Regions from separate parts of the Homo sapiens genome. Here regions 2 and 3 are each linked to region 1. The links come from fine-mapping of genetic effects on gene expression. A gene starts in region 1. Each other region holds a variant in brackets. All regions are shown on one strand. Distances are from middle to middle. Region 1 holds the start of MYO9A (myosin IXA). Region 2 overlaps MYO9A (myosin IXA). Region 3 overlaps MYO9A (myosin IXA).

What was found. PIP is the estimated chance that this variant, and not a neighbour inherited with it, causes the effect.
Region 2: its variant is fine-mapped to the expression of MYO9A in whole blood (INTERVAL, PIP above 0.99).
Region 3: its variant is fine-mapped to the expression of MYO9A in whole blood (INTERVAL, PIP above 0.99).

Annotation. Positions count from the first base shown.
Region 1 is chr15:72,112,919-72,123,209 of GRCh38, forward strand. MYO9A (myosin IXA) reads right to left here and starts at 5,232. Exons shown (of 42, transcript NM_006901.4): 1 at 4,762-5,232. It overlaps SENP8 (SUMO peptidase family member, NEDD8 specific), which reads left to right and starts at 5,485. Exons shown (of 2, transcript NM_145204.4): 1 at 5,485-5,546. RefSeq lists an enhancer at 4,174-4,383 and a silencer at 4,584-5,353.
Region 2 is chr15:71,981,658-71,991,948 of GRCh38, forward strand. MYO9A (myosin IXA) reads right to left here. Exons shown (of 42, transcript NM_006901.4): 11 at 9,446-9,580. It also overlaps a transcript of MYO9A-AS1 not described here. Among named protein-coding and RNA genes, the nearest start is that of MYO9A-AS1, 6.6 kb to the right of the region's middle. The variant T/C (reference allele first, on the strand shown) is at 5,087.
Region 3 is chr15:71,818,181-71,828,471 of GRCh38, forward strand. MYO9A (myosin IXA) reads right to left here. Exons shown (of 42, transcript NM_006901.4): 41 at 9,704-9,846; 42 at 4,111-8,863. The coding sequence ends at 8,400. NR2E3 (nuclear receptor subfamily 2 group E member 3) reads left to right here. Exons shown (of 8, transcript NM_014249.4): 8 at 1-73. Among named protein-coding and RNA genes, the nearest start is that of NR2E3, 13 kb to the left of the region's middle. The variant GTTTTTTTTTGTTTT/G (reference allele first, on the strand shown) is at 7,805.

The DNA of each region.
Region 1 (10,291 bases):
ATTTTATAATTTATAAAGTCTTATATTTTTAGGCTGGGCACAGTGGCTCAGCCTGTAATCCTAGCACTTTCAAAGGCTGAGGCAGGAGGATGGCTCTAGTCCAGGAGTTTAAGACCAGCCTGGGCAACACAGTGAGACCCTATTTTTTCTGAACTTATATTTTTTAAAATGCTCAATCTAAAAACTTGTTTTACTAAAAAGCACTGATATCATCCCTCTTACCAAAGTAGTCAAACCCTAGTGAAGAAAACAGACAAGTAATTAAGCTATTTCATTAGAGGACTATGATAGAAGTAATTACTATGTGCTACAGGAGCACATAAGAATGGTACCTAACTTAATCTGAAAAGAGGTAAAGGAAATCTTCCTGAAGAATATACACCTGAACTGAATCCTAAAGGTCAGACAGAAATTAGCCAAGCAAAGAAAGGGGAAAGTGGAAATCAGGGAAATAGAACATCAAATGTAAAAGACGAGAGAGAAAGCACATTACCTGAGAGGAAGCCTAAAGTCAGTAAGAGTGGATTAAAGTATGTAAGGAAGACAGCAAGTGAAGAAAAGCTAGAGAATTAAGAGTTAGATCATGAATGATCTCATACACATGCCATGCTACAGTTTAAACTCTATCCTGAAAGCAATGAGACAGCTTTTTTGAAGATTATTCAATAGGAAAGGACATGATTTGATTTTTATCTGTACTATACATGTCAAAATTATGGTGTGGGCCATGCTCACAACCCCATTTTGCGGTAAATTAGCCTGCACACTGTCCCATACTTTCCACCATTAAGATCTTTCCTGATACCCATATATACATACAAACACACAGCCAACAATAAATGGCCAAGAGTGGTGACATAACCTAAGTACACAGACTTGTTAGCAATCAATGAGAAAAAGAGCTGAGCCAAATCTGGAATTCAAACCAGAAAATCCTAGGGAAAAGGAAGAGGTTAGCAACAGGAGCTAACCTCTTTTAAAACGTTTTAAAACAATTGCAGCCAGGAGGCAAGATGTTGGCATGGGGGTCACATAGTAGTTATAAGGAGCAGAAATTAGTAATAAATGGAAGCTATGACATAGGGGGAAAAAAACTGAAGAAAGAAACGGTATCTAGGACAAGCTAACAATGGAGCACTGGAGTGGGGTCTCCAGCTTTATTAGGTTCTTGTTCTTCTTGAGAGCAAGTTTTATTAGGTTCTTTTTCTTCTTGAGAGCAAGTTAACTTTTCCTGGGTTCCCTTGTGTATGGTTCCTTTCAATAAGCACTTCATTACTTAAGGTAACTTGAGTCTCTTCCCTCCAAGTGAAAGAGCCTGACTAAAAGAGCATTTTAGAATACTTACTCCAACAGCAGTCAAGAGAATGAACAGGAGGGCATGACAAGAGGCAGAAGACAGAAGGCAAGAAGACCACTCAGCATTACAGAAGCCCAACAAACAGATATTTTCAGTTAAAATAAGATAGAGGCAACAAAAAGTAATAAGGAATGACCTGAAATATCATGAGGGAAAATGTACAAGGCAGTGACAGACTGGATGTTGGCAGTGAAGTACAGAGTGAAGCGGAGGGCAATTCCCAGGTTCCTGAAGGTTTCATGAGGAAAGAGTGGTGCCATTAATCAAGGTAGGAAATCGGGGGGAAGAAAAAATTTTGTTGCAGTTTCTGTCTCCGGCTCTCTCTCCACTGTTTTTGTGGGGGGAAAAGAGGCAGGAAGAGTTTTGTTTCCTAAATGTTTGGATTGAAGTGTTTGTGAAATGTGAATCAAAGTGGTGATATCCATTAGGCAGTGCTTTTACAGGGGTCTAGAGCAAAGGCAAGCACTCTAGACAGCAGTTCTAGACTTAGGAATCAATACATTAAGTCAATATTGTGGTTTTTAAAATGTCTGAAAAGTCTTTGACTAATATTTATTTCAAACTGAGTTAACATAACCAAAAATCACTCCAACTAAAAACCTTAATATTCTTGGCAAATCATATTTTCAAACCTCCTACATTTCTCTGCTATTAAAGACTGAACAAACTTCCACATAGTATAATCCAAATGATTAGGAAAGATGGAGTTTATATCGCTAACTTCTATTGAGGTACTTGTTAAAAAAAATCTAAGTTTACCCAATTTCCCTCAGGAACTATATACTACTAAAATAACTAAGGGAAAACAACTGTTAAAAATTCATATATTAGATAGTGAATCTCACTGTTAATGCTTAAACTAGAATAAGTTTTTTAAAGGCACTTAATCATGTAATTTACTAATTTAAATATTCAACTCTACCTGTAATTTAAATGTTGGGTTTCCATCCTAAAACCTTTTCTCCTCCCTTCTGTATGATTTTGCCTCCAAAATCTACTGCTATCAACCCAGAACCTGATACTGAGCTTCAGCCACAAATCCAAATGCCTAATGGTCATCTACATCTGACAGAACTACAGTCACCTAAACTGAACATGTCACAAATTAACCCCTCTATCCTTCCTCCTTGACAAAATAAAAACAAAATCCCACTCCTTCATGGGAATCCCCACCTCAGTGAAAGGCACAAGCCAGAAACCTAGATTTTATCCTGTATGCAACTTCTCCCCAACCCCAAATACAATAAAATCACCAACTCAACTCCGAATATCCAAGTTCAGATCCAGTCTCACCATTTGCCTGGATAACCCTAATATTCCTGGCCTTTAGTCTTATTCTACTCTTCAATTCACTGCAGCCAGAATGACTTTTTTAAAATGCAAATCTGATCATTCCAGTCCCCTGCTTTAAAATCCTTCAATAATTTAATAAATATTATAATCATCATCACAGCTAGTCACACTGTGGAAGCTCAGAGGTTCAATGAGAAATTTAGTTACATCCTTTCTGTAGGTTCAACATAAAAGAATCATCAGGAATTTTTTTCAACTCACAAAATTATTTAAACATACATATAACATCAGACACATTTAAAAGAAAAGCATGTAACATTGTTGGTAAAAGCAAAACACCAAAAATAACCTCCAGTCCACAAAAATGGAATACTATCCAGCCAGTAAATGAGGCACTTCCATATGTATTGTTAAGAAATGACCTCTAGGATGTAGTATTAAGTAAAAAAAACAGGCTATGTATAGAATGTAAAGTATGCAACCATTTGTGTACAGTGTCTTAAAAATATAAATGTGTAGGTTTATATATTGGAAATATCACAGAAAGGATACACATGAAGCTGGAAATAGTGGTTGCCTCTAAAGAGGAAAAATGGGTGGCTGGAGAGTGAAGGCGGAACAGAAATTTTTACTACATTACTCTTCCGAAACTTTTGGCTTTTACGTCTAGTTATTATCTATAATTTTAATGTGATTTTCTCCTGTTACTTTAACATTTTTTACTGTGTGTGTGTGTATGACTACAAAGACCTCTTTATATTTCATCTTTATACCAATATTAAAATTACGTACTGATCATTTGATGCAACATTACATTTCTTTCTTGACAACTCAGGAGCTCAACTTCTACAAACATTTTATTCAACATTTTACTGCTATTGAGAAGGCTGTTGTTGGTAATGACCTCAGTGAACACTGCATGATTTCTGTACTTGCTTCTTGGAGAAGCAAGACAGCAGCACCAGGCAACAGAAGTTTATTATTAAACCGACATCGAAGCATTCAGGGATTAAGGAATGCTACAAATCTTATTTTTCTAGCAAATCCAAAAAACAGTGAATCCAAAAAAAGTCCCCTAGTATCCTTTAAAAATAAAAATAAGAAACAGTTCTAGTATCTGCAGCAATCGACAAGGAGGTGAAGTAATACTACAAGACGACATAGTTATATCCACTAGTGCAACGTGATTTAATCCTTACAGAGGTCCCTAAAACATCAGTGCTGGACAACCTCACACGTTCTACACAGAACAGACAAGACGAGGTGCAGGCTCTGTGACCTTATAATGGCACACACACAACTGGCCTCATGCTTCCATAACTTCACTCTGCCTCCCACTTTTTTCAGCCCAACCCCTCCAAACATGGGTCTCGGTCGGTCCCCTTAAGCCACAATGGAGGGAATACATTAGGCTAAGCAAATATTCCCTCAGGATTTCATGGCAAAGCCCTTTCAACCAAAGAAAGGATCGCGACTAAGGAGAAAGATAACAAGGTTTGCTTGAGGAGAGGTCTGTTGAGAGAGGCTACAGTCGGTGGTGGGAGAGAAGCCAAAGTCTGTGACGGTGTCTAGAGGGACTGACACCACATCTACCGGGAGTAAGAACACCATGACAGCGGCTATCTGAAAGCCGTGATGGCTAGGGTTAGTGCTAGTCGGCTTGGTGATGAGCGAGCTGGGAGGGGTTCTACTAAGAAGAGTAGGGCGAGGGGCACATGGGGGACGCAATGGGTTAGGGGGCGGTCGAGACTTTGCCTGAGAACTGTAATCACGTCAGCCCAAGGGAGGATGTAACGTAGTCTAGAAGCTCCATTAAGAGTCCTAAGGGACTCTGAGGGGTACTAATGGGGTCTGCTGGGTTGGGGGGACCGTGACAGAATCTCCGGGGAGGCTGGAGGGCCGGAATGGTGCCCGGCCAATGGAAGATACAGGGGGTGGGGTCTACTGGGGATCCGGGGCCGTGATCTGGTGTTTGGGAGGCTCGGCGCAGACCCGCTCGCGGGGCGTCTCCGCTGGGACGGGGCGGGGCGGCCCGACCGGAGCCAAATAGCGAGGCTGAGACGTGGGCCAGGACGGGCTGCAGGGCCGCTGGGCGCTTGGGCGGGTCTTACCTCGGGCTCCGCCGCGGTGGCCACCGCAGCCCCCTCCTCTTCGACGGAAGCTGCCTTCCACCCTCCGCCCCAGGGTAGGACCGGAGATGGCAGAAGAGGCCGAGGCCACCGAGGGTCGGACGGTTCCGGGAGGGTGGGCCCAGCAGCCTCAGGGTCCGGGCGAGCGGCCGCGGCGCATCCCCCGCCCTGTCAGAGAGACTCCGCCCGGCCTGAGCAGGCACATCCCCCGCCGCACCCCGCCCAGAGAGCACGCGTTGGACCGCCGCCTCAACCGCTGCCAGCGGCCGCCTCTGCCGGTGCAACTACTGCCTCCGCCGCCGCCTCTCGCAGTCCGGGCTGTCCTGTACTCTCTCAACAGACACAGCCAACCGCCGCCGCGTCCCTTATCCGCTTCGGTCGCGCGCCCCCGACCCCGCGCACGCGGCCCCGCCCCGCGCGACTCCCCGGCTGCAGGCGAGCAGGCGCGCGCGCACTTACCTCCCACGCCCCCTACTGCCAGCACGGGTCGGCCCCGCCCTGTCCCGCCCCCGCACGTGACGCCACTGGAGAGTACAGCGTGCGCTTGCGCAGACACGCCCCCTTTCCTACGCCCCAGGCGGCCCCGCCCAAATTTTTTCTTCTTCACCTTACGGCAGAGCAGGGAACTCAGCTTTAGATTCTCCCTGTACTGGAAAGGGATGTCGCAAGGTTGGGGACGAAACCTCTGAGTTTGCGACCGTAGCTGTCGCTTTCCGGCCAACACAGAGGTGCCTGAAGGCTGGTTGGGGTGGTGAGGCCCGAGGCAGGTAAGAAGCCTCCTCCCCACTTCGGTTTGTCTCGGCAGTGGATCGCTCTCCCACCCACTCAGATTCTGGCGTATCCGTGCTCCCTCCCGATTCTGGACCTGGATTCTCAGCGCCGCCGGTCATAGCCCCCGCCCCTTTTCAAACACGCACGCTCTCTCCACCCACTGCCCCCTCCATTGTCCCCGCCCCGACCTCCGTTTCCATTCATTTCTCAGACTTTTCACTGAGTGGTTTCCATGCCTTGGGTTCCAGAATGTCAGAGGCGAATTAAGTGGTGTCAGCTTTTTGAAGTGCTTTTGTATAGGAGACCGTGAGAGAATCCGCAGTGGTAGTACAATAAAGTGACAATAGAGAAAAATGCACGGGATGCTGTCTGCGCACAGAAGAGGGGTCCCAGGTTGTGTAGGAGGATAACGTGAGGAAGCCCTTTCCAGGGTGACTTTTGGGTCACTTTTAGAGGACTGTGTTAAAAGACTAGTAATCCAGTACCTGGTCAAAGAAATACGAAAGGAGGTAAAAGCAGAATAACGGGCGCAAGAGCATGTGACAGTGGTGGTCTGAAAGAGAAAAAAGAAGTAAAATAAACCTGATGGAAACCGTACTAGTGTAGACTTCCCTTTAAAGAAGCATCGTTATAAAGTTAGAGAAATGAGGAACGAGAATATGGCCCTCAGGAATGTTTTCTGTTTAGGTAGAAGACTCAAAAGCGTACCATGAAACCGAGAAGTGGCCTCTTCGAGGGTGAGGGAGGCTAATTTATAAGATCAAGATCACTAGTGGAACGCAACCTTGTATGTGCATTTGAATCACCTGGGAAACTTTTTGTTAAATAAAACCAATACTGTTGCCCCACTCTAGACCAATTAAATTCTGGGTTGTGCCAGGTGTCATTACTGTTTTAAAGCTCCACAGGTGACTCTAATGCTAAAGATTGAGACTCACTAAACTAGAGAGAAGGAAGTTGAGACAGTTGGCTCTGTAACATTAAGATGGAGGTCATTTAGCCGGGCGCGGTGGCTCACGCCTGTAATCCCAGCACTTTGGGAGGCCGAGGCGGGTGGATCACGAGGTCAAGAGATCGAGACCATCCAGGCCAACATGGTGAAACCTCGTCTCTACTAAATATACAAAAAATTAGCCGGGCGTGGTAGCAGGCGCCTGTAGTCCCAGCTACTCGGGAGGCCAAGGCAGGAGAATGGCATGAACCCGGAAGGCGGAGCTTGCAGTGAGCCAAGATCGCGCCACTGCACTCCAGCCTGGGTGACAGAGCGAGACTCCGTCCCCGCCCCCAGAAAAAAAAGATGGAGGTCATTTAACTACAGAGAGGCTTGGAGATGGAATGAGAAACTTGAGCGGCGTTATGTTTGGAATAACTGGTCTGGGAAATGGGAGAAGGAGCCACTCTTGCCTTTCTCTTCAGCACTGTTCATTCCTCAGTGTTTATCAGGTCCAAATTAGTTACTTGTCTCTTTGCTCTCCCGTTCCCTTCCGTCCAGGATTGGTCAGCTGTTGTCTCCAGCCTTAAAGCTCAAAGGCCATCCCCACTTCTGTCCCCAAAATGATCAGAGCTAAGCCAATTTATGAGATGCAGAGACCAACATCCAGAGCTAAGCCAATTTATGAGATGCAAAGACCAACATCCACTCTCATAGAGATTACTACATACAGTGCCTTGCCAATTTAGAATCTTTTTCTATTATTTATCATTTAAGTTAGTAATGAGATATAAAGATATTTAAAATACAGCTCAATTAGGATGGAAAATTACCGTATTAGGGAAAGCAGGCCTTTAAACAAAGAATTCACTTGGCAGGCAGAGAAGCTGTATGAGGTAAAGACCAAGACAGTGTATGGCTGCTATCTATTAACTAGGGTTAATCCAAAAACCTGTCTATCAGACCCAGATAAGAACGAGTTATTGTTGTCTAGTATGGCTAGAGCATAGTATGGAGAGTAGAGGTGGGACAGAGATGAAGATGATAAAGTGGGTGTGAACAGATTATGAGGAGCCTTGAATTCCATGGTGAAGAGTTTAGATTATATTACTAGAAGTAATTAATAAGTACAAAAAAGGTTCTTAACCTCTTTTACCCAGTGGACCTTGTTGGCAGTCCACCTTATAGATTCAGTCTCAGAAAAATGTTCTTAAATATATAAAATAGAATACGTAGTAATATAAAGGAAACTAATTTTGTTAAGTTTTTAAAATATTAAAACAAATGTGTGATATATATGCACTTTATGCATTAAATAAAATCTGGCAGCAGGTCTAATTATATAATTTCTAAGTAGTGATGACTATAAATTATATTTTGAAATGCCTGCAGCAACTTTAATGTGATGTGAAAATATCAGATTTCTATTGGTAAAAAAGAGAGTGCTAATATTGTAGTTTGTGGTCCACACTTATTGAAGAAATGCTAAATTTCAGCTACTGATTATTGAAAACAAAGATGCAATTGTTTTCCCAGTCTAAGTTCACAGAACCCTGATATTCTAGCCACATCCTGGTCTATGGATCCTAAGTTTTAAAATATCTCAGTATAATGGTTTTAAGCAAGAGCATGACATCAAATCTGTGTTTCAGAAAAATGATGAAGCAGTGTTCACTTCCCAACCTCTCTGCTGGGATGAGAGGCTGGCTCTGGGGCAGCAACCAGTACTATCCCACTGTTTCCTAATAACCAGGGCCTGCAGAGGGACTGAGCTTGTGGGTGTATATGTCTGTGAGAGTAATACCAGAAAATAAATCAGGAAAGGTAGATTGGGGCTATTTTTGTGGAAATCATTGAATGCCAGGCTGTAATTTGTAGTTACTTTGGTAGACAATGGAGGGTTGTTAAAATTTTTTGGAGTAGAATAATGTGATTAGAGTTCTGTTTGAAAATCTAGAATAATGTGCAGGTTAGATTATCAAAAGAGAAGATAGGAATGAAGAGACTAGAACAATAAGTTAATTAATTTTTGAAAAATGGAATCTTGGGCCAGGTGCAGTGGCTCAGGCCTGTAATCCCAGCACTTGGGGAGGCTGAGGCAGGAGGATCACTTGAGCCCAGGAGTTCAAGACCAGCCTGGGCAACAAAGTGAGACCGTGTCTCTCCAAAAAAAAAAAAAGAAAATTAGCCAGACATAGTGGTGCCTGCCTGTGGTCCCATCTACACGGGAGACTGAAGCAGGAGGATTACATGAGCCCAGGAGGTCGAGGCTGCAGTGTTCATGCCACTGCACTCCAGCCTGAGTGACAGAGAGCCTGTCTCCAAAAAAAATCTTGAGGTGATCTCTAGAGTCTGCTAAATTCCTTTATTTCCACAATGTGCTGACCAGTCTAGAGTAACATACATTGGAATAAATGGCATACCTGTCAACAGGAATATATACCCCAGTGTGGGAGTCAGTTAACTTTATGTGGTCAAGAGGCTAGCCCAGTCTTTTGTATTATAAATGATATTGTTAGTACTTCTAATAAAGCAATGGCCTTACCATAAGTTCACAGATCTTGCCAAGGCCTTCCTCAGTCAAACTCCATCTATACCTGTGAGTCCTACATTTCTGACTTTTAAAAGTCAGAACCTGTCTATACCTGTGAGTCCTACATTTCTGTCTTTTAAAAGTCAGAACTCCTCTCTTTTTGCCAATTCCTTAAACTTCTTGGATGGGAAAGAAGTTTAGTTTAAACACATTAGCAAAAGAATGGGAGGTCCTCAAGGCCCAGGCAACCCATCTCCTTTGAAACTGATCAATACCGGACTATAAAAACTTACTGCTCAAATCCAGCTAGTACCCAAAGTATGTACTGTCTATATACCTGTCTATACCTGTGAGTCCTACATTTCTGACTTTTAAAAGTCAGAACTCCTCTCTTTTTGCCAATTCCTTAAACTTCTTGGATGGGAAAGAAGTTTAGTTTAAACACATTAGCAAAAGAATGTGAAGTCCTCAAGGCCCAGGCAACCCATCTCCTTTGAAACTGATCAATACCGGACTATAGAAACTTACTGCTCAAATCCAGCTAGTACCCAAAGTATGTACTTTTTAAATGTATTCTAAAAAATTGAATTTGGGGTTTAGGTATTACTGATCCAAATGAGTCCTATAAAATTAACTTCCAGAACTAGGTTCTCAGAGAGGCCACCATTACCACCTTCTTCAACATAACTAGCCTATATTGACTTTCTGTCCATCAAATAATTGGAGGCCATTTGGGTGGTGATAGGAAGAATTAAGTTTATGCAGAACTTGAGGTTCAGCTATCTGACACCTTTTGCGGGAGGAGGAGGAGTGGGTCTATCTGAAATCAGAAATAATACTTTTATGAGGCTTTTTAATAATTTTTATTACTTACAGAAAATTTCTGAAAGTTCCTTTCTCTGGCTCCCAATTAAATGGCTTACTCCACAATCAACTTATAAAAGCACTGGATCATTGTCTTGATCCCAAAAAATTTGTCCCAACTATAGTTACTATTTTGAGCATCTGTATTATTGTTTGAAAACCTTAGGCTTGCTTTCCCTGATGGCCAATGAATAAAACTCTCAAAGTCGTGTGATTCATTACTCATTAATTCATTAGATATTTATTGAACCTCTACTATGTGCCAGGCACATTTTTGAAACCCACTAATGAGCAATTTGTAATGACAATTTACCTCTTAACTATCTATGAAAAAAATAACTTGCCAGGATTTGAAATCCTTAGAACAAATGAGATTAAAAGATCATAGCTTTTTTGTGTTCTTTCAAATAGTG
Region 2 (10,291 bases), 130 kb before region 1:
TCTCTCTCTCTCTCAGATGAATTCCTTGAGGGGTTCATCAATATTATTAGCCCTTTCAAAGTATTACTTTTGGTTTGGTTGATCCTCTCCCATGGTATATTTGTTTTCACACTTTTATTAATTTCCTCTTTTATCTCTATTATTTCATTTTCTCTACTTTCCTCTGGTTTAGTTTGCTGATCTTTTTCCCAACTGTTGACAGGGATCACTGATTTTAAACAAAAATCTTCTAAGAGCTATGAAATGTTCTTCTAAGTATAGCTTTAGGCATTTCCCATAGTTTTAATATGTAACGTGTCATTAGGTACAATATATTTTCTAATTGTTCAACCTCTAGCCTATTTAGAATTTTTTTTTTTTTTTTTTTTTTTTTTTTTTTTGGGACAGAGTCTCACTCTGTCGCCCAGGCTGGAGTGCAGTGGCCCAATCTCAGCTCACTGCAAGCTCCGCCTCGCGGGTTCACACCATTCTCCTGCCTCACCCTCCTGAGTAGCTGGGACTACAGGGGCCTGCCACCATGCCTGGCTAACTTTTTTGTATTTTTAGTAAAGACGGGGTTTCACCGTGTTAGCCAGGATGGTCTCGATATCCTGACCTCGTGATCTGCCCACCTCAGCCTCCCAAAGTGCTGGGATTACAGGCGTGAGCCACCGTGCCCAGCCTAGAATATTTCTTAATTTTTAATCATATAGGTATTTTTCAGTTATTTTTTAGTTACTGATTTCAGGTATAATTTTATTATGGTATTAAAATCTGTGTCATTTCAATCCTTGGAAATCTGACTTTCGCTTTATGGTCCAGGATATAAACAAATTTTGTAAATATCCCACGCAAACTTGAAAAAAAAGTGCATTCTGCAGCTGTTGATGCAGTGTTCTATGCATATCAGTTATATATTTGATTTTTAAATCTTCTATATCCTTAATTGATTAGGTTTCAGGCCTAAGGGCAGGAAACTGACATTCTGCTCTGAAGGACAGTCAGTGATGGATGCCCACAAAGGCACTAATCTCATCTTCTAGATATTTTAAATCTTCTGTATCCTTACCAACTTTTTGAACACTTATTCTATCAGCAAGTCAGCATGGTATGTTAAAACATTCCACTATGATGGTAAATATATTTTTCTTTTTTGAGTTTTATTCATTATTGCTTTATATATTTTGAGGTTCTGCTATCAGGTGCTTATAAATTTTGGACTGTATACTACTTCCCAAGGAAGTGAATAATGCTAAAGGGTAACATTATTAAATATTCCTTTTTATCTCTAGTAATGCTTGAAATATGATATTAATATAGCTACAACTGCTTTTTTTCTTAAGGTTTACTAAATCTTTGCTCATCCTTTTAATCTTTCTATATACTTATATTTAAAATGTCTCTCATAAGCAACAATCAGTTTAGTTTTGTATTATATCTAGTCTGACAATCTTTAGCTTCTAGTTAGAGCAATGAATCAATTATATTTAATGTAATCACTAATATTTGTGAGATTAAATCAAACACCTTACTACTTGTTCTTTGACTTTCATGGCATTCCTTTTATTTCTTGCTTTCTTCTGGATTGAGTGTTCTTATTTTACTTATCCTCTGTATTTTTTTTCAAGTTTTATATTATTTTACTATTTTTGGCAATTCTAGAAAACATGTATCCTTAACTTATCACTAACAGAAATAATATCTCTGTAACTTAGCATTTAATACAAAGATCTTAGAGTATCTTAAATTCTATTTACTCCTAACTTATATGCTATTACTGTCATGTATTTTAGTTACATTTAAACATTAAATAGTTTTTTATTTTTTTTATTTCTTTTTTTTTTTTTTTTTTTTTTTTGAGATGGAGTCTCGCTCTGTCACCCAGGATGGAGTGCAATAGCGTGATCTCAGCTCACTGGAACTTCCGCGAACCCTTCCCAGCTACAAGCAATTCTCCTGCCTCAGCCTCCTGAGTAGCTGGGATTGCAGGCGGCTGCCACCACGCCCTGCTAATTTTTGTAGTTTTAGTAGAGTCGGGGTTTCACCATGTTGGCCAGGCTGGTCTCACACTCCTGACCTCAGGTGATCCACCTGCCTCAGCCTCCCAAAGTGCTGGGATTACAGGCGTGAGCCACCACGCCCAGCCTAAATAGTTCTATTTAAGCCATAAAAGTTATTTTTAACTTTGCCTCATTAATATTCATTTAGATTCAACGACTTTTTTATAATTTTCATTGCTCTTCATTCCTTCCTGTACCTGAGCTACAATAGGAAACAACTTGCTGCCTAAACAATATACCTTGGTTTTAAGGAAAATATGCCATTGTCTCCTAGCTTCCACTATTTCCACTGAAAGGCTGACTGCCAAGTCTTATTGTTGTATCTTTAAAGATAGAGATGTCCCTGACTTACGATGATTCAACTTTACAATGGGGTGAAACTGTCATAATTTCTGCAGACTTTATCTTTGCCTAGGCTGGTGATATGTGGTACATGAGATATTCAACATTTTTACTATAAAATAGGTATTGTGTTAGATGATTTTGCCCAACTGTAGGCTAATGTAAGTGTTCTGAGCACATTTAATGTCCTGCACATTTAAGGTAGGCTATGTCAAGTTATGATGCTTGGTAGTTTAGATGCATTAAATGCATTTTTGACTTAAAATATTTTCAGCTTGGCAAGGAGCAACTGTAGTCTCTGGTTTCCTCTAGCTGCTTTTTAGACTTTTTTCATTGTCTTTGGTTTAGTATAATTTTCTAGGTATAAATATCTTTGTATTTAACATGCCTTGGATTCTTAAAGAGCTTTTCAAATGTATGCTTGTTGGGTTTGTTTTTTTGTTTTGACAGTTTTGGAACATTCTCAACCATTATGTCTTCAAACACGGCTTCTAACTTATTCTACGTCTCTCATACACATCTTTCCAAAATTCCTATGGCACATGTTAGACCTTTTTACTATGCTCTTAGAGTATAAGTCTCTTTCTTATCTTCATTCATTAGGCTCAGTATTTTCTTCTGGTCTATCTTCCAATTTACTAATTTTACTAACCTGTATCTTACTATTAAAAACCATCTGTGTCTTTTCAATTTCACAGTACTTTTTAGTTCTAGGTTTTCCCCAATTTGGGATTTTTAAAAGTAATTTGTAGTTCTTTAATAAAAATATTGCACCTTATTTTTTAAAATTTCTTGAAAGCATGGTTAGTTTCCAGTCCATGTCTAGTGCTAATATCATTGGCTGGATCCACTGTGGTATTATTATCTCATTTCTCTTGGGATATTTTGTTGTTGTTGTTGAGACGCAATCTCACTCTGTCACTCAGGCTGCAGTGCAGTGGTACAAACTCAGCTCACTGCAACCTCCGCCTCCTGGGTTCAAGCAATTCTCCTCCCTCAGCCTCTTGTATAGCTGGGATTACAGGCATGTGCCACCAAGCCCAGCTAATTTTTGTATTTTTAGTAAAGATGGGGTTTCACCATGTTGACCAGGCTGGTCTTGAACTCCTGACCTCAAGTGATCCACCTGCCTCAGCCCCCTAAAGTGCTGGGATTACAGACGTGAGCCACCATGCCCGGCCACATTTCTCGTGGTTTTTATTCATGCTGGTTTGCCTCCATGTATGTCTTTATGTCTCTGTCTGTCTCTCTCTCTCTCTGTTTTGGACTGAGTGTTAGATCCTGTATATGAAAAATTATAAAGATAATTTTAGCAGTTGGATGATGTCTTCTTCTGGTGGAGATTGTATTTGCTCTTGGCAGGTGGTTAAGAATACTACAAATTGTATTTTAACCTAATTGGGAACTGAGATGATTTTAAACTGGGCTTCAGTCCTTCTGATGCCAGGTTTACTTCTGATTTACTTTTGTCTGAGATGTAACCCTTTAGGGATCTCAACCTAAAGCCTATAGGAATTACCAAGGGCCTCCTCCTTATTTTTGAGTCAGAAGAAAACCCTGCTCAATTCCTCATACTCTCAAGCCTGGCCCTTTTAGAATCAGAAACACTACAAAAATAACGAAATGTCTCTAGGAACAAAGCAGCACCCAAATGCTGGGCTCACTTCCCTAGATTTCTTTCTTATAGTCTAGGCCCTGTAAAACTTATTTGAAGGTACTCCAATGCCTTCAAATATATGTTGTTGAAGTTTTTTGGTTGTTCTCCAAGGTAAGGTTCATCAAAAGTTTCTAGTCTGACAACAACAAGTAAAATGGATGAAACAAAAACTTGCTAGATTATGAGCTCCTCAAATAAGATCCCTGCACTCTAAATTTTCTATCTTCTATGCTTAGCACACTGCCTGGCACACAACTGTTGTTCAATTTACTGATGAATCAATCAAATGAAGAGTAATTCTCAGCAAGTAAGGAAAAGAAAAAAGAGGGCAGTAATACAAGTAACAGAAAACATACAATTGGCCCTCCATATCTGCAAAAGTTTCCACATTTGTAGATCCAACCGACCACATATCAAAAATATTTAGAGAAAAAAATGCAAAAAATATAAACTTAGAAACAGTATAGCAACTATTTACATACCATTTACAGTGTATTAAGTATAAGAAACTGAGAGATGATCTAAAGTATACTGGAGAATGTGCATAGGTTATGTGCAAATACTATGCCATTTTACATAAGGGACTTGAGCATCTGTGGATTTTGGTATTCTTCAGCAGGGGGTCCTGAAACCAATCCCCTGTGGATACCCAGGGATGGCTGTACTTTCAAATATCAGAAACCTCTTTGGGTCTGTCTCTTAGTCTACATTACAGTCTCTACCACTACCTTGATTCAGTTCAGAATCACTCACCCATTCTACAGTCATGTGCCACACAAACACATTTCAGTCAAGAACCAACTGCATATACAACAGGGATCCCTAATCTCACGAAAAATTCATATTATCTACTGACGTCTTGATCCTGACCCTGTGTAGGCCTATGCTAATATGCTATGGTAATATGTATGTATACATGCTAACATGTATGTATGTGTCTTTGCTTTTAACAAAAAAGTTTTTAAAGTTTTAAAAAATTTTAATAGAAAGAGGGCTTATAATTATATAAAGAGAAAACATTTTTGTACAGCTGTACAATGTGTTTGTG[T/C]TTTAAATGGCTACTACAAAAGTCAAAAAGTTAAAAAAGTTTATAAAGTAAAAACATTACAGTAGGCTCAGGTTAATTTATTACAAAAAAATTAATAAATTTAGTGTAACTTAAGTGTACAGTGTTTATAAAGTCTAACTAGTGTGTGTACAGTAATGTCCTAGGCCTTTATCACCACTCACCCAACATCTCACCCAGAGTAACCTCCAGTCCTGCAAGCTCTAATCATGGGAGGTGCCCTATGTAACTGTACTATTTTTTATCTTTTATATTGTATTTTTACTGTATCTTTTCTATGTTTAGATACATTTAGATACACAAATACTTACCATTGTGTTGCAGTTGCCTACAATATTCAGTGTAGCATGCTGTACAGGTTTGTGGCCTAGGAGCAATAGGCTATATCATATAGCCTAGGTGTGTAGGAGGCTATACCAACTAGGTTTGTGTAAATACAGGATGATGTTCATACAACAGCAAAATCACCTAATGATGCATTTCTCAGAACATATCCTCATCATTAAGTGACACATGACAGTACTTCAACTAGTTCATAGATTTTTCTCCTTCTTTCCAGTTCACTGCTCTTCAGTTCAATTCAAGTCCTCTGCTAAATATACTTCAAATAGCTTCTCATTGTCTGAAAAATTCTAATCTTCCCTGCATGACATATAAGTCCACTGTTTTAAGTACAATGTGTATAATGTTACCTTTGCCTAAAATATCTTTTCCCATTGACAATCTAGTGAGCTTCAGCTCACTATTTGAAATTATATGCCAGAATCAACCCTGGAAAATTTTTGCAGCCTTTCAGGTAGTTCCAATCAACCCCATCCTTTGTGTAACTACTTTACCTTATATCTGATTATAGCATTTACATCCTGCATGGCAATTATTACATCTCTCTCCCATCCTATATGCCTATGTACTCCTTTTGGACAAAATTTAGAACCAAACCACAGTCATCATATTGAAGATTTTTCCTACAAATGTACCTGTGATACTGTACCTTCTTTTTAAAAATTTTAACCTTAACTTATTTTATACTCAACTGAACTTAACAAGTAATCACTGAGTACCCATTTCATACCAGTTACCAATGAGGTACATATAAATAAGACACTTAACAAGATTCTGATCCATAATTGCACCACATTGCCCAAAATGCTGACATTCAGGGTAGCAAGTAAATGAGAATCACCCATCTTCCAAGTAGTTTTGAACACATTTTCCATAAACTCTAAGGTTTTTTATTTTTATATATAATACGTTTATGGCCAAGGCATTTCTTCTGGCTGTCTAATCTAGACTTCTAGAAAAGAATAATTTCAGTTTACAATAAAGAATGTTTGTCTTTTTCAAAATCAATTTAACCAATGTTCTGTTTAATGATCCACAGAGCAACTGATGTTCTGCTCTGTAAAATATAGAACCCAGAAAACTAAATGCATTCCCTCACCCTTCTAACACATGTACTTATTTGCAAGAGATAAAGAATATTAACTTAGTATGATTTATGTAAGAGTTTTGGACTGATTCAATAGACATGGATGGCAATCCCAGCTTAGCTTTTGATTAAAAGAAAATATTATAGAGCCAGAGTGTTAAGGTTTGAATACTGGCTTTAGACAACATCTGAAAAACTAGAATAAAAACAGTACTGACTGATAAGTAACACTACATAACTCGTAAGTGTTAGCTAATATTATAACAAATAATATCTTTCCAAAGCTCTAGGGTAGCATCTAGCTAACAGATTATATGTTTAAAACTTTAAGCATTCATCAAGTTGGCCAGGACTAATATTGTCATGCTATTGTTAACCAGCCATTATGTCCTTTAAGCAAAATAGAGGCACTTTTTTAAAAAGCTAAGACAGCAACAAGATCCAATGATAGGAGACTTGATGATATAAAGATCTTTTCTCCCTCTTTTCTGTAGACCTGCTAGCTGTTGTAGTCTTTCTGTTCATTCTCTATTCTTAACTATTTCCCTTGAGTTCAGTTTGATGAAACCTGTGTCTGCCTATGTCCTCATACACAAATTCTGGGGTACAATGTAAACCTATTACTGATTTCAACCTTAGTTTGGAGAAAAAGTCCACATTTTGTTTGCCCCTCCCTTTGCACTAATAATTTTCATGGAAACTGAAAGCCCACTCTTTTTTTTGAGATAGAGTCTCACTCTGTCACCCAGGCTGGAGTACAGTGGCGCAATCTCGGCTCACTGCAACCTACGCCGCCCACATTCAGGTGATTCTCCTGCCTCAGCCTCCTTAGTAGCTGGGATTACAGGCTCCTGTCACCACACACGGCTAATTTTTGTATTTTTAGTAGAGATGGGGTTTCACCATGTTGGTCAGCCTGGTCTCAAACTCCTGACCTCGTCCGCCCACCTCGGCCTCCCATAGTGCTGGGATTACAGGTGTGAGCCACCACTCCCAGCCAAAAGCACACTCTTTTTATACTAACTTAATCAATCTTGAGATCCTCATAAGAAATATCTAGTTACCCATCTTGGTCTCTCCATACCTAGTTTCTTTGTATCTACACTCTGTACTGACTTGAGATTCTGTTAAGCTCCTCTATCTCATCCTAGAACTAAGAGACCAAAGCAATCAAACAAGCATACAGTTGGCCCTCCATATCCTCGAGGGATTGGTTCCAGGACTCCCTGTGGATACCAAATCCACAGATGCGCAAGTCTCTTATATAAAATGGCTTAGTACAGTCAGCCCTCTGTATATGCAGGTTTGTATCAGTAGTTTTGTATCAGCCATGGGTTGAATGCTTGGATGTAAAACCCAAAGATAAGGAGGACTGACTGACTGTACTTAGCATTACACACAGTGACCAAGCCCATGGTAGCAATTAAAAATCAACACCATTGTTTCCAAACCCCTGTGTGAAAGAAAAAGAAAAAAGAAAAAAACAATCAACACCAGCAATAAAAACAAAACAAAACACACACACACATCTTTTTAATCAAAGGTTCATTCAAGGCCAGGAGTGGTAGTTCCTGACTGTAATCCCAGCACTTTGGGAGGTCAAGGTGGGAGGACTGCTTGAGCCTAAGAGTTTGAGACCAGTCTGGGCAACATAGTGACACCTTGTCTCTACAAAAAATAAAAACAAAAATTAGTTGGGTGTGGTGACGTGCACCTGTGGTCCCAGCTCTTGAGTGGCTGAGGTGGGGGGACTCCTTAAGCCCCAGAGGTCGACACAGTGAGCCAAGATCACGCCACTGTACTTCAGCTTGGGCGACAGAGCAAGAAGACCCATCTCTAAAAAAACACACTCCCCTGCAAAAACAACAAAGGTGCAATCAAATAAGCATATATAAGCAATTTTTTTTTTTTTTTGAGACAGTCTCATTCTGTTGCCCAGTCTGGCATGCAGTGGCTCAAACACAGCTCACTGCAACATACACCTCCCAGGCTCAGGTGATCCTCCCACCTGAGTCTCCTGAGTAGCTGGGACAACTGGCATGCAATACCACATCTGGTTAATTTTTATATTTTTTGTACAGACAGGGTTTCGCCATGCTGCCCAGGCTGGTCTCTAACTCCTGGGCTCAAGAGATCCACCCACCTTGGCCTCCCAAAATGCTGGGATTGTCAGCTTGAGCCACCATGCCCAGCCAGCAAATCTATTTAGGGAACTATAAAACCTCTGTCATCTGCTTACAATGATATGTGGACCACAATATTTGTATTGAAAGACAAGATTTAGGCTGGGCGCAGTGGCTCACATCTATAATCCCAGCACTTTGGGAGGCTGAGGCGGGTGGATCACGAGGTCAGGAGATCGAGACCATCCTGGCTAACACAGTGAAACCCCATCTCTACTAAAAATACAAAAAAATTAGCCGGGCATGGTGGCGGGCACCTGTAGTCCCAGCTACTCGGGGAGGCTGAGCCAGGAGGCTGGCATGAACCCGCGAGGCGGAGCTTGCAGTGAGCCGAGATTGGGCCACTGCACTCCAGCCTGGGCGACAGAGCGAGACTCAGTCAAAAAAAAAAAAAAAAGACAAGATTTAAAATGCTTATTATGTGCTCTCCACTCTTTTAGTAAAATATCACAACTGATATTATGATAAACAATTGAAGCTACCAGACTACTCTGTTTTATCTCACATTTCTAATCCCATCAGTTGAGTTTACATAAACAAAGAGGCAACGGTATTTGTTCCCAAGCCAATTTACTTCGGTTATTCTTGTTTGTAAAGGCACGTTTCAATATTTAATAAAAACACTATGTAAATCAATAAAATGTGTGAAAAAATGAAGTGAATTATTATGAATATGACTCAAAGATATGTGTGATGGGGGGACAAGTGTATACATATTTAGGTACTCACTTGTTCCAATTTAAAGATATGCTGATTAAAGTAGTGCTGTAAACGTTCATTAGCAAAATTAATACAGAACTGTTCAAAGCTGTTATTTTCATAATCTTCAAACCCAAAAATATCAAGAACACCAATAGACAATGTCTGTAAAACAAGAGAAAGTTTTGATTAAAAGTAATGTTTAAATTTATTTAATGAATAATATCCACAACATAAGTAACAAAATGCTCAATTCCTCTAAAGCAGTGTACAGGGGATTGTGTTTGGCCAGTATTCAAAACATATCATGACTTAAAAGTATTTTAGTTATCTTTATCTTACTTTTATCCTAATTAAAAAAATATATCCAAACTGTTAATACATATAATCTATAGATTACAGAAATATGTGAAGCAAGGTTAGTGGCCTTTTATCTTAAGAAACCTCAGAAATCCCTAACATCTTAAAGGGAATGGAAAAAAACAGAGGGTGAGGAAATCAAAAGGTTATTTCAATGAAGGATCAAGAGAGGTAGGTTACTCCTGGCTATACCAAGAGGACAATGCAATTTTTCCTATTTCGACTTCTACATCCCAATAAATAGAATTCTTCATTAAGAACCAAACTAGTATATTTTATCAGCCTCATGAAGACTGAGTGAAACTAGATGTCAGAACGTATGGTTTCTTTTTTATTTTTGAGACGGAGTCTCGATCTGTCGCCCAGGCTGGAGTACAGTGACGTGATCTCAGTTCACTGTAACCTCTGCCACCGGGGTTCATGCGATTCTCTTGCCTCAGCCTCACCAGCAGCTGGGTTTACCATGGCATGCACCACCATTCTGGCTAATTTTTTGTATTTTTGGTAGAGACTGGT
Region 3 (10,291 bases), 290 kb before region 1:
TAATTCATTGAGCTGTGCACTTTATTTTGTTAGACCTCAATAAAAAAGTAAAAAAAAAAAACAAAAAAAACCAGAAAAATGAGTGTGGTCAAGGCTCTCCCTTTGGGGACACTGAAGGAATGAGCGCAAGGTCTTTGAGTTCCATCTGGGTTCCACTCCAAGTCAGAGACCAGGCGCAATGAATTCAAGCCCAGTGGAAAATCTCCCATAGAATTCAACCACCCAGCTTCTCTCCAGATGGCATCCCATCATCCGCAGCATCTCTCAACCTTTATCTCCTATCTCCTGCCTCATCTCCTTCCTAAGTAAAGAACACCTTCCAACTCAACATAAGGCAGCTACAGGTACGTTTTGTGAAAGGGACTCTTCATCACTTCTCAGGTCCTTATGGAAAGATACAGCTCAGACAAACTTCATCATTTTCTTTTTCTCTTTTTTCTTTTTTTGAGACTGAGTTTTGCTCTTGTTGCACAGGTTGGAGTGCAATGGCGCAATCTTGGCTCACGACAACCTCCGCCTCCCGGGTATAAGTGATTCTCCTGCCTCGGCCTCCCGAGTAGCTGAGATTACAGGTATGCACCACCATACCCAGCTAATTTTGTATTTTCAGTAGAGACGGGGTTTCTCCATGTTGGCCAGGCTGGTCTAGAGCTCCCGACCTCAGGTGATCCACCCACCTTGGCCTCCCAAAGTGCTGGGATTACAGGTGTGAACCTAATCCTTTTTGAAGATAGACCCAGATGACTGTGAAAATAATATTTTAACATGTTAACATAGATCAGGCAATGTATATATTAATAGCAGGCAGTGAGCCGGGCACTTTTTAAATTGCCATTTAATCCGCAGATTAACTCTGAGGGAAGAGCCAATTTTCTCCATTTATAAGTGAAAAAACTGATGCTTAGAGAGGACTCAAACCTTGGTGTGACTCTACCTAATGCTGCTTAACTTTGGCACCGCCTCTTTCCCAACTTCCCCTTCACTTTTGGAATGAAAGACTGAACAATTCTGTTGCATTTTCTGCCTTCAAAGGATAAGTGTTTGAAATCAAGACAGAAAGGGTCATGTGAGAAGGCTGAGAAATCCTAGGGGTTCCCTGTCCTTTGGCTTGTGTTTGAATTCCCTTAGCTGACAGAAATGCCCTATCTACTCAGGAACTCAGAACCGCTAGGGCTGGTGCCAGAGAGGAAAGAGTATGGCAAATGCTGCCCAGCTGAAGCCCTTCTTACTTCAGCCCCTAGGCTACTTCAGATTCTCTCCAACTTTTCAAAGTATCAGAGTGGCCTCAGTTAATCGGTCAACTAATGTCTATAATGCCATTATACAGTCCAATTCCCTATCAAAAGTTTTATCCATATGAGCTAAGCCCTGAGCAAAGCCACCTTAGTAAGACACATGGTTGAAATATGACATGACCAGCCCTGCGTATGTATCTTACAGTTTGGCTTTGGAGGACATGGTAAGACTGCAAAGGTAGCCTGCTGAAGTTCACAGGCTAGCATCTGGGATGTGTGAGCCCAGCACATCTACATTGGGAAGGAGATTTGAGGGCTCTCCAAGAAGTCTTGGAGAATTAGAGGAAGTACATAAGCTGGATTGTCTGCTGTCAATCGGGCATCAATACCACCCCTCCCCCACTTCTAAGGGCTTTTCTTCACTGCAGAGATGCCAGGAAGGAACTACATTTCCCAGAAACCCTTTCCCCTAGGATTTGCTAATGAAAGACACTCACAGGAGATTTTTTCCCCCCTAATGCCAAACTGATTAAATTTGGCATTAGGAAAAAGAGAAGCCATTTTTCTTTGGAGACACTGCAGCCCTGTCGTGGGAAAATAGATTTCATAGCAGCCTCCTGGCTAGAATTGCACTAGCTTCCAGGCAAGCTCTTGAGAACTCCTCTGGAACTTGTAGCTGAGATTTGCGTTGGCTTTCTTGACCTGTGGGAATATCTCTGACCTTTGTTAGATCCTAATTTCTGTATTAAGTCCATCTCACCTGGAATACAAAGTGGCCTCTGTTCTCCTAACCTGGTACAGCTCTCAGCATGTCTTACAGACAAGAATACAAACTCCTGTTTGTAAACCACCTAGGATGATGGCAGCCATTATTCAACTTCTTGTTGTAGATTGGCTCTACAGAAATTCTGATGAGTAATGGCTTTTCCATTGCATTTAGGGTCCTTATTAGGAGGGTAGATAATTTGAAAGCTTTTTTTTTTCCCCCTCAATGCCAGAAATATCTTTGGCTATGAAGCACCACAGAGGTAGTCCCTGTGGGACTATCTGGGCCTTTCTTTTCAAATAAAGCTAGTTTTTAGATTCACGAGACACTCCTCTACCCACAAGGGGATATTTCAAGGTAGGAAGGGCAGGGAAAGACTCAAAGATGCCAAGAAGCGCAACCTCATAGTCAAACCCAGGTATCATGGATGACTAGTCTCTATCTGGTGGACATCACTGGTGTTCCCCACTAGAATGCAGGCTCCACAGGGCAGAGATCTTTGTTTTGTTCACTAATGTACCCTAAGCACCTAGGACAATGCCTGTGGGCACTACCTGGAAGTGACACACTCCTTGACTGTGAGTCTGAGATACCTACAAGATTCAACAGTCAGATATTACATGTACTTTATCTACTTTCATGTTTATATCTCTGGCTCTAAGACACTGTACTGCCACCCATTCTAGGGGCAAAAGCAATTTAAAAAACAAACCAAACCAAAGCTGTGGTCACTTTATAACTTGCCTCTCCTTATATACCTTTCTGTTCTCAGGTCTTCATAATCACAATAGTTGTCTTCTCAGTAATCATCTCAGGGGCAAGTTTTAAGAATGTATTTCGGCTGGGTGTGGTGGCTCACACCTGCAATCCCAGCACTTTGGGAGGCCGAGGCAGGCAGATCACCTGAGGTCAGGAGTTTGAGACTAGCCTGGCCAACATGGTGAAACACCGTCTCTACTAAAAATACAAAAATTAGCCAGGCATGGTGGCAGGCACCTGTAGTCCCAGCTACTTGGGAGGCTGAGGCAGGAGAATCACTTGAACCTGGGAGGTGGGAGTTGCGGTGAGCCGAGATTGTGCCACTGCACTCCAGCCTGGGTGACAGAGTGAGACTCCATCTCAAAAAAATAAAAATAAATAAAAATGGTATTTCTAGGTTTTATTTGGGCAACTAAGGGAATTTTAAACAATTAACACTTCATATTTCAATGTAATATAAATTTAATGCAAAAATGAAAATGTAAATGTAACGTAAAAACAAGTGAGAAGGATGACCCCAGAATTTTAAAAATTGAATACATTTGGCATTAGGGACATGTTTTTTTCCCCATGTAACCTCAGACCTGATTTGGCATTTTGGAACCACTGATCCTAGTCAATCCTCTCATCCAATATCTGCCTAGCCAGCACCTTTTATTAGGTGCTGGGATCTAAGAGTCAGCAAGACAGGTAAGTGTTTGACGCTGTGAAAACTGAGAGCTGTTGAGAACACAGACCTCTAACCCAATTCACAGGGTCAGAGCAAACTTCCTAGGACAACTACCTTTTATACTAAAACCTGCGAGTCAGTAGGAGTTCTCCAAAGCTGGGAGTTTGGGAAACAGAACTGACTTCCAGATAAGAAAACTAACATTCAGAGAGAGCGAATGCCTTTCCCAGACATGCAGTAAAGTTGGTAGCAGAACAAAAATGACAAACTGAGTTAAAATTTCTGTTCCTATTGCAATGTGTTGCTTTGAATTTCAGTGAGAATCCTTGGGCCCTCTATTGGCAACCTCTATTAGCAACTTCTTCAAGTGGCCAATTTAGGGGAGGATCCTAAATGCAGATTTACTGCTTTTCCTCCCTTCTAGCCTTAAACCGATTAAATGAAGTCTTGACAGCCAGCAGCCTGCATCCACTACAGAAAAAACGACACCTTGAATCACACCTTCACTTGAATTCAGTTGAGTTCCAGTGACTACCACCTCTGTGCTTTGTCAACTTTGGGTTGAGTCCTTTCCTGAAAACACATCAGTGTAACTAAGAAGTCACTGCTGTTTCTTGGAGTTGGGTTGGAATAGTTGGAGTGGGAGCCAGGATGGTTGGAAAACAAACCACACATATTGCTGCTTCTGGAAGCTTTGTTCTTTAATGAGCCATGGGGTGATTTGTTCATCAAGCTGCTTTTGTGTAGCCATACAGTGCATATTTTGAGTGACACAAACTGCACTTTATACAGATGGTATCTTGTTACCCCTCAACCCCCCAGCAAAGAAAAAAAAACAAAAAGGAAATTACAAAGTGCCTATTGATTGCATCCGGAATGTAATCAGTTCCGTGGGTGAGATAAATCATTCTTCTTATAGAATTATTCTATTAAACAGTAAAATGTTATATTTCACAGGATATGTCCTTTTATAATACAGTTTTTAAAAAAAATTTACACTCAGCATACTTATAAATTACTTAAAATCCATTAAAATAATATAATACGAATCTGTAGTCCACACCTTTCCCATAGTAAATACAAATACTTGGTTCAAAAGGTGCAACTTTTATATGACCTCAGAGGGCTGATAAATAGGCATTAAGAATGGATGACTAGCAAGGTGACAGGCCCATTGTTGGGGCTTTTTTGAAAATAGTTTCAACCAGGGGACCAACATGAGACCTAATAGATCCATCTCCACAATCATCATTTTGCTGTTACCCTTTCAATACCCAATCAAATGTGGGAGTCATTCCAGAGAAAAGTGGTTAAAAGTAGTCTAGGGCATAGAAAAAGAGGACTCTCACAGATACCAAGGAGTTTTACTACCAAGGCCAGCATGGTATTGCAGGACAGTGCTGGGGAGTTGTCACAAGAGTATGGGTGGACATAACACATTTGTCCATACAGAATGATGCATGCCCCGCATCCAGCTTCCCACCAAGAAGAAAAAAGAGAGGAGGATGAGGAAAGCCATGGAGTGAGTATGTATGTTTCTTTTTAAAATGAAAACTCTCTTAGCTTTGAACACATCCTGAGAATCCTTTCTTCTTTCTAGTTTACCAAAGTGCTTGTTACAGTGAAAAACACAGCCCACAGGCACTGAGGTGGGACTACAGAACCTTGCTGGACCACATCTTTTCAGCACATTTCTGTGACCCTCTGTTTTTGATGGAGAAAACAACGCTACTGTTATGAAACACAGAATGGAGTCTTCATTAATCTTCCAGCAGGGTAAGTGCTCTGGCAGGTTTCCAAAGCATGAGAAGGTGGGGGCTCTAGTATTCCATCCCAGGACCTCTGGCCCTTTTGTCTCTCTCTGCAAGGCTCATAGTTGGAGGGCTGTATCTCCCTTTGTGTTTTCAGAAGCCCAGAGTGGCAAAATAATTTAAATGGCAGGAGGTACAAAGTACGTTGTAAACTAAGCCTCCCTGAATCCTGCTGTATTTGCTGTTGATTTGCTTCAATTTGTGATACAGAATGAAATCACACTTCTCTGCTTTTGTTACATTTTCCATAATAAGTACATACTAAATTACAGGGATACATTCACTTTAATGGGCAGAGTTGAAAATTCAGGTTTTGTTTGGGGCTGGGAATGTGTGCTGTGAGAAGAGTGCTCTGCATTTTGGAGTATGGGCTCCAAATGTGGAGCTGCCCCACTGCTGCCATGCAGAGATCAAACAAGCAAAGGAGAAGCACTATGGAACCACAAATGTGATGCATATTAAGGGCTAACAGTTTCATAAGTGATTGTAATGCGGCATCACTTTGTGGTGACATAACTTTACCATGCAGAGGGCCAGTGAGAACAGATGGATGCAGACACAGCGTTTGGTTCTGAAGGTTTTTAAGAGTTATGGCTTCATCTCTTGATCAGGCCAACAAGGCCTACTACCCTATGTAAACAACGGCTTTCCCTCAAAGGGAGGGCCCCACACTGCTCTCCACTCTTATCATTTTGTGGCTCTCTCCTCCTCACCCACCCACCCCAATCCTGGCAGATTAAATTACTAGAAATCCACAAATCTAGCAACTGAAAAAACAAGTTTTTTTAATTGAATTTTATCCAAACTGGAGTTTCAGGTCCCTGAGAAAAATTATAAAGTCTCTTAACATCCATCACCTAGTTCCTTTAAAGTGACCTACATCAGTCGTTTTTTAACTGCCAAAAAACTTATTTTGCCAAAAAAGCCCCACAAAGATTTAGAAGGAAGAACATGTGCCAACATATGTTCTTCTGGCCATTCCTCTGGGCCACAGGAAATTATTCCATAAGGGCAATCTCTTTTTTTCATACAGGATTTAACCAACATTCTGGAGCAAGTGCAGAGTAACAATTAATGCCCAGCAGTACACTACTCTCCCAAGAACACTGAAACACAGACTGTGCAACCTGGCACGGGGCTGAGGAACCAGCAATCCCACTCTAACACACCATGCTGAGGGGTTTTCCTCTATCCTCTAGGAGATTCTCTGAAATTCAGATTTTTAAAAGCTTAACATTATTTATTACTCCTCAGGACAAGATGAACAAGGTGGCAGATGTCTGTGGGATATAAAGCATAACATTTGCTCATTAACTATCATTATTCTGGAGATTTTAATGGCTTCCTTTCTCTGGCTCAATTCTGAACCCAAAGTAGGGAGAGGTAAGACTCCTGCTACCTTTAGCTGCCACTCAGAATTATGCTCCAAGTCTAACCTCTGGGGCTGGCCAATAACCACTGAGGCAGTGGCGTGAGGTTCAGTGTTGTGTAACAGGAGAGAGAGACTCTGCCTTAACAAAAGACTTAATATTTCCACAACTTCAAAGAAGTATGAAAAGGAAGAATACCCAAAATACAGGTTATAGATGGTAAAGGCTCTTTTTCAGAGCAGTGCATGTAGTAGCAAGACAAGATGCATTTAGTAACTTTAAAAATAAACATTTCACATACTTATCTCAAGAAAGGCTATCATGTTTCATTTTTTATATATTATAAATAGCAAAAACAGATTTCTAATCCCACAAATGCTAAGATACTTAAAATGCTATTATAACTCATGTGTATGAAGACCACCCAGTGGTGAAAATGATGTCTTACTAATTCCCTCAACCCAGGGACGAATGGCTCTCATCCCCCTGTCCAGTGGCCCCTCATCTGTGGGAAGAAATTCCATGGGAAGGAGGGAAGCACAAGGTTAAAAAGAAATATGCCTACTATACATACATATTTACAATAAACTTCAGTAACCAGAATATTAACAAAAATAGCTTCAAGTAGTCCTTGATTTTTTTCCATCTATTTAATACTGATAGTCTGAGAAAAGGAAGATAAAAGTTAGTTAGTTAGATAGGTCATATTAAAAACCTTTTTATTTTTTGGCAGCTTTCTGTAACACTTACTTACTTATTCATGCAATATTGTATGTGAATGTTTTTGGAAACTAACTAAACGGTCACATTATTTGTTTGTTTGTTTGAGTCTGAGTCTGTGGTGGGAATCCACCAGCAGATGAACAGGCTCATATGCGGTTTTCGGTTTAATCTATACAAAGAGAAAAGCCTGAATGGCTTAGGATGAAACCTTCATAAGTTTAGGGATCACCATGTCTCTGGGAAACTAAAAAATAATGTAGAAGAATCTGATCCTAGGACCAAGAAACATGAGAACAGTATGGCTACTGACACTTCAGCCCATGCAATGTATTTGGCAGGAACTAAACAGGAGTTAAACCAGCACTGATTACTATGACATCAAACATCATCAAAAAAAATAGGTATTCTCTTCTTCACTGTATAACAAGATATCTGAGACACGCTCTGATGGCTTAATGGAAACAATCACG[GTTTTTTTTTGTTTT/G]TTTTTTTTTGTTTTTTTTTTTTGTTTTTGCTTTCCCCAGAATATAACATGGAGTGTTTTTTCAGAAATCTTAAAATAGAGGGATTAGGCTTTTTGTTTGTAAGTAAGTTTTTGGAAAAAAATTATATTCTACCCTAGCTCCTAACTATCCCAAAATAAACCCAAAGGCTTTTGCTTTCACGGTTAAGAAAGATTTATACGTTTTCTTCAAATGTCAGAAATGAGAGGGTCCCTCAGGACAGCAATATCCCCCCTAGTTCAACACCCACCTTTGGGAAGGGAAAAGAGGGTGGGGGAGAGGCAACTACAACTGACCCAAATCCCCAGGCCCTAGGTGGCTTTGTATAGTAAAAATCTCAATTCAAATACAACAGCCAAGGCACAGCTGGCACCATCCCCAGCAGGCTTTCTGCTTCTGCAGGAGGCCCAGGAATTCAGCACATACAGTCTTAGCCATATGCTTAGAAAAGAGGCAGGACCACAATTAGGATTGACTATTGTGGACGAGGTGATGAAACGCAGCCCCAAAGGTGAGATTTGTTTACCACTCTGTAGCCACGGAGGGACACACATCTGCCGGTTCAGACCATAAATTCATTATTTCCAAAGAGTGCTAGCTGTTGGTTGGAGGTGCAGTCTGGGTCCACAGTTTTTCTGCGGCCAGACATGACTGTCCCCTCTGGGGTCTCTTTGGTTTTCTGAGGTGAGTTTTTCACATTCTTTAATTTTTGTTTGCCCTTTTCCGGGTTGAAGGTTCCTCTGCTGATGAACTGAGGCTTGTCTTCCAGGAATTTGGTCTGGCCCAATGGTCCTTCCATTCCCAGGGCCTCATTACCTGAGGCAGCTCGGTAGAATGGAGATTTGGAATAAATCTGAAATAGTTTTCTGGTCCCATGAGATGATGCCGTGTTAGACAGACATAAAGAGGAGACCGAAGAGTCCACGACATCTAAAGAGTCTTGCTGCTTTTTAAGTTGCTTTCGCAACTTGCTGGAAGGTTCAGACTTGCCAGCTGTCTTCAGGGAGCTAAGGGCTAAGCTTCTTTCTAATGCAAAAAAGAGACCAAAGATGTAAATGACAGTGCCCTCTAAAGCAAATCATCATATAATGAATAGATGCCACTGTTCACACATGAAATTGGGTGGGATAAGATTCAGAGGGTCCAGGATGACTTACTATGGGCACAGTCACAGTAAGAGCTCACCATCCATTTCTCTATGTAGCATTTCCGAATCATCTCCAAGGAAATCTGGTGTTTGACTATGCCATCAGCGGAGGCCTAGAACAGTCACTATCATTTCAAAAACTGCCAGGATATGCAGGTAAGTCCTACATCTCCCTGAGACATGCCACCCAGTTAAACACCTCCTTTGTATATGTATATAGTCCCACCTCACAGTGGGGGCACAATGCCTGCCACCCTCAGAAAATGGGTTATGGGTCAGTAAGACAACATATATTGTGATTATTGGCTTTTCTCTGTGGTAAGTACAGGATAAAACATTAAATTACCAAAAAACAAAACAAAACAAAACAAAAAACAAAAAACTCAATCACGTTGAAGAGTTGGTTTGATAAACAATGTATATGGAAGCTTTACAAAGACAACAGGAAAAAAAAGACCTTCCGTGGAAGTCAGGAATCTAAGTAGCAAAGACAATTATATTTCTTATCCCCTTATATTTCTTATCCCCATCCAGGTCACTACCTGTATGCCAAACGATGAAGGCTAAAATTATATGGATAAAAGGACAAAATTCCTCAAGACTTTGTTATTGCTGATGTACAGTCAGTAAATTCTTAAAAGACTTTGTCTTAGTTTTGGAATCTTTATTCCTCCTTTGCAAAACAAATCTGGAGTCTTTGGTCTACCATGTTCACTTACCTGATTTCTCAGAGATAGCATATTCAGACTCCATATTCAAATTCTCTGAGCTATCAGCAGTCCCAATGGAGGCCTCAGACTCAAGGGTTTCATCATCAGAGGCACGGGGTTCCAGTACAAGCATCTCAAATGTTAGCTCCTCCCTGTAAGACACAATCAAGAAACCATTAGCATTTGATAGGAAGTGGAAGGAAGATAACAGAAAAAAAGATCCTCCATGGAAGTCAGGAATCTAAGAAGCAAAGAGAGTCCATTTTTACTGTCCCCATCCAGGTGGTGATGAGGACCTGTATGCCAAATATGGTGAAGGCTAAAACTATATGGACTAAAGGACAAAATGACAGATAGCCAATCTAGGACCAATAATAGGGGTAAGGGTAGGGTGAAGAAAGATGTAGTGGTGAGATCTTTCAGTAAAATGAACTCTGGACTGATAAGCAGGAGATCAGGGCTCTAACCTTGTTCATAATATCCATAATGCATCAGGAAAGTACCTTTCTCTTCTGGACCTCAGCTTCCTACCACAAAACAAAGAGATTAAACTAGATAACCTCTAAGATTCCTTCCAGCTCTTAAACTATTTTCCAT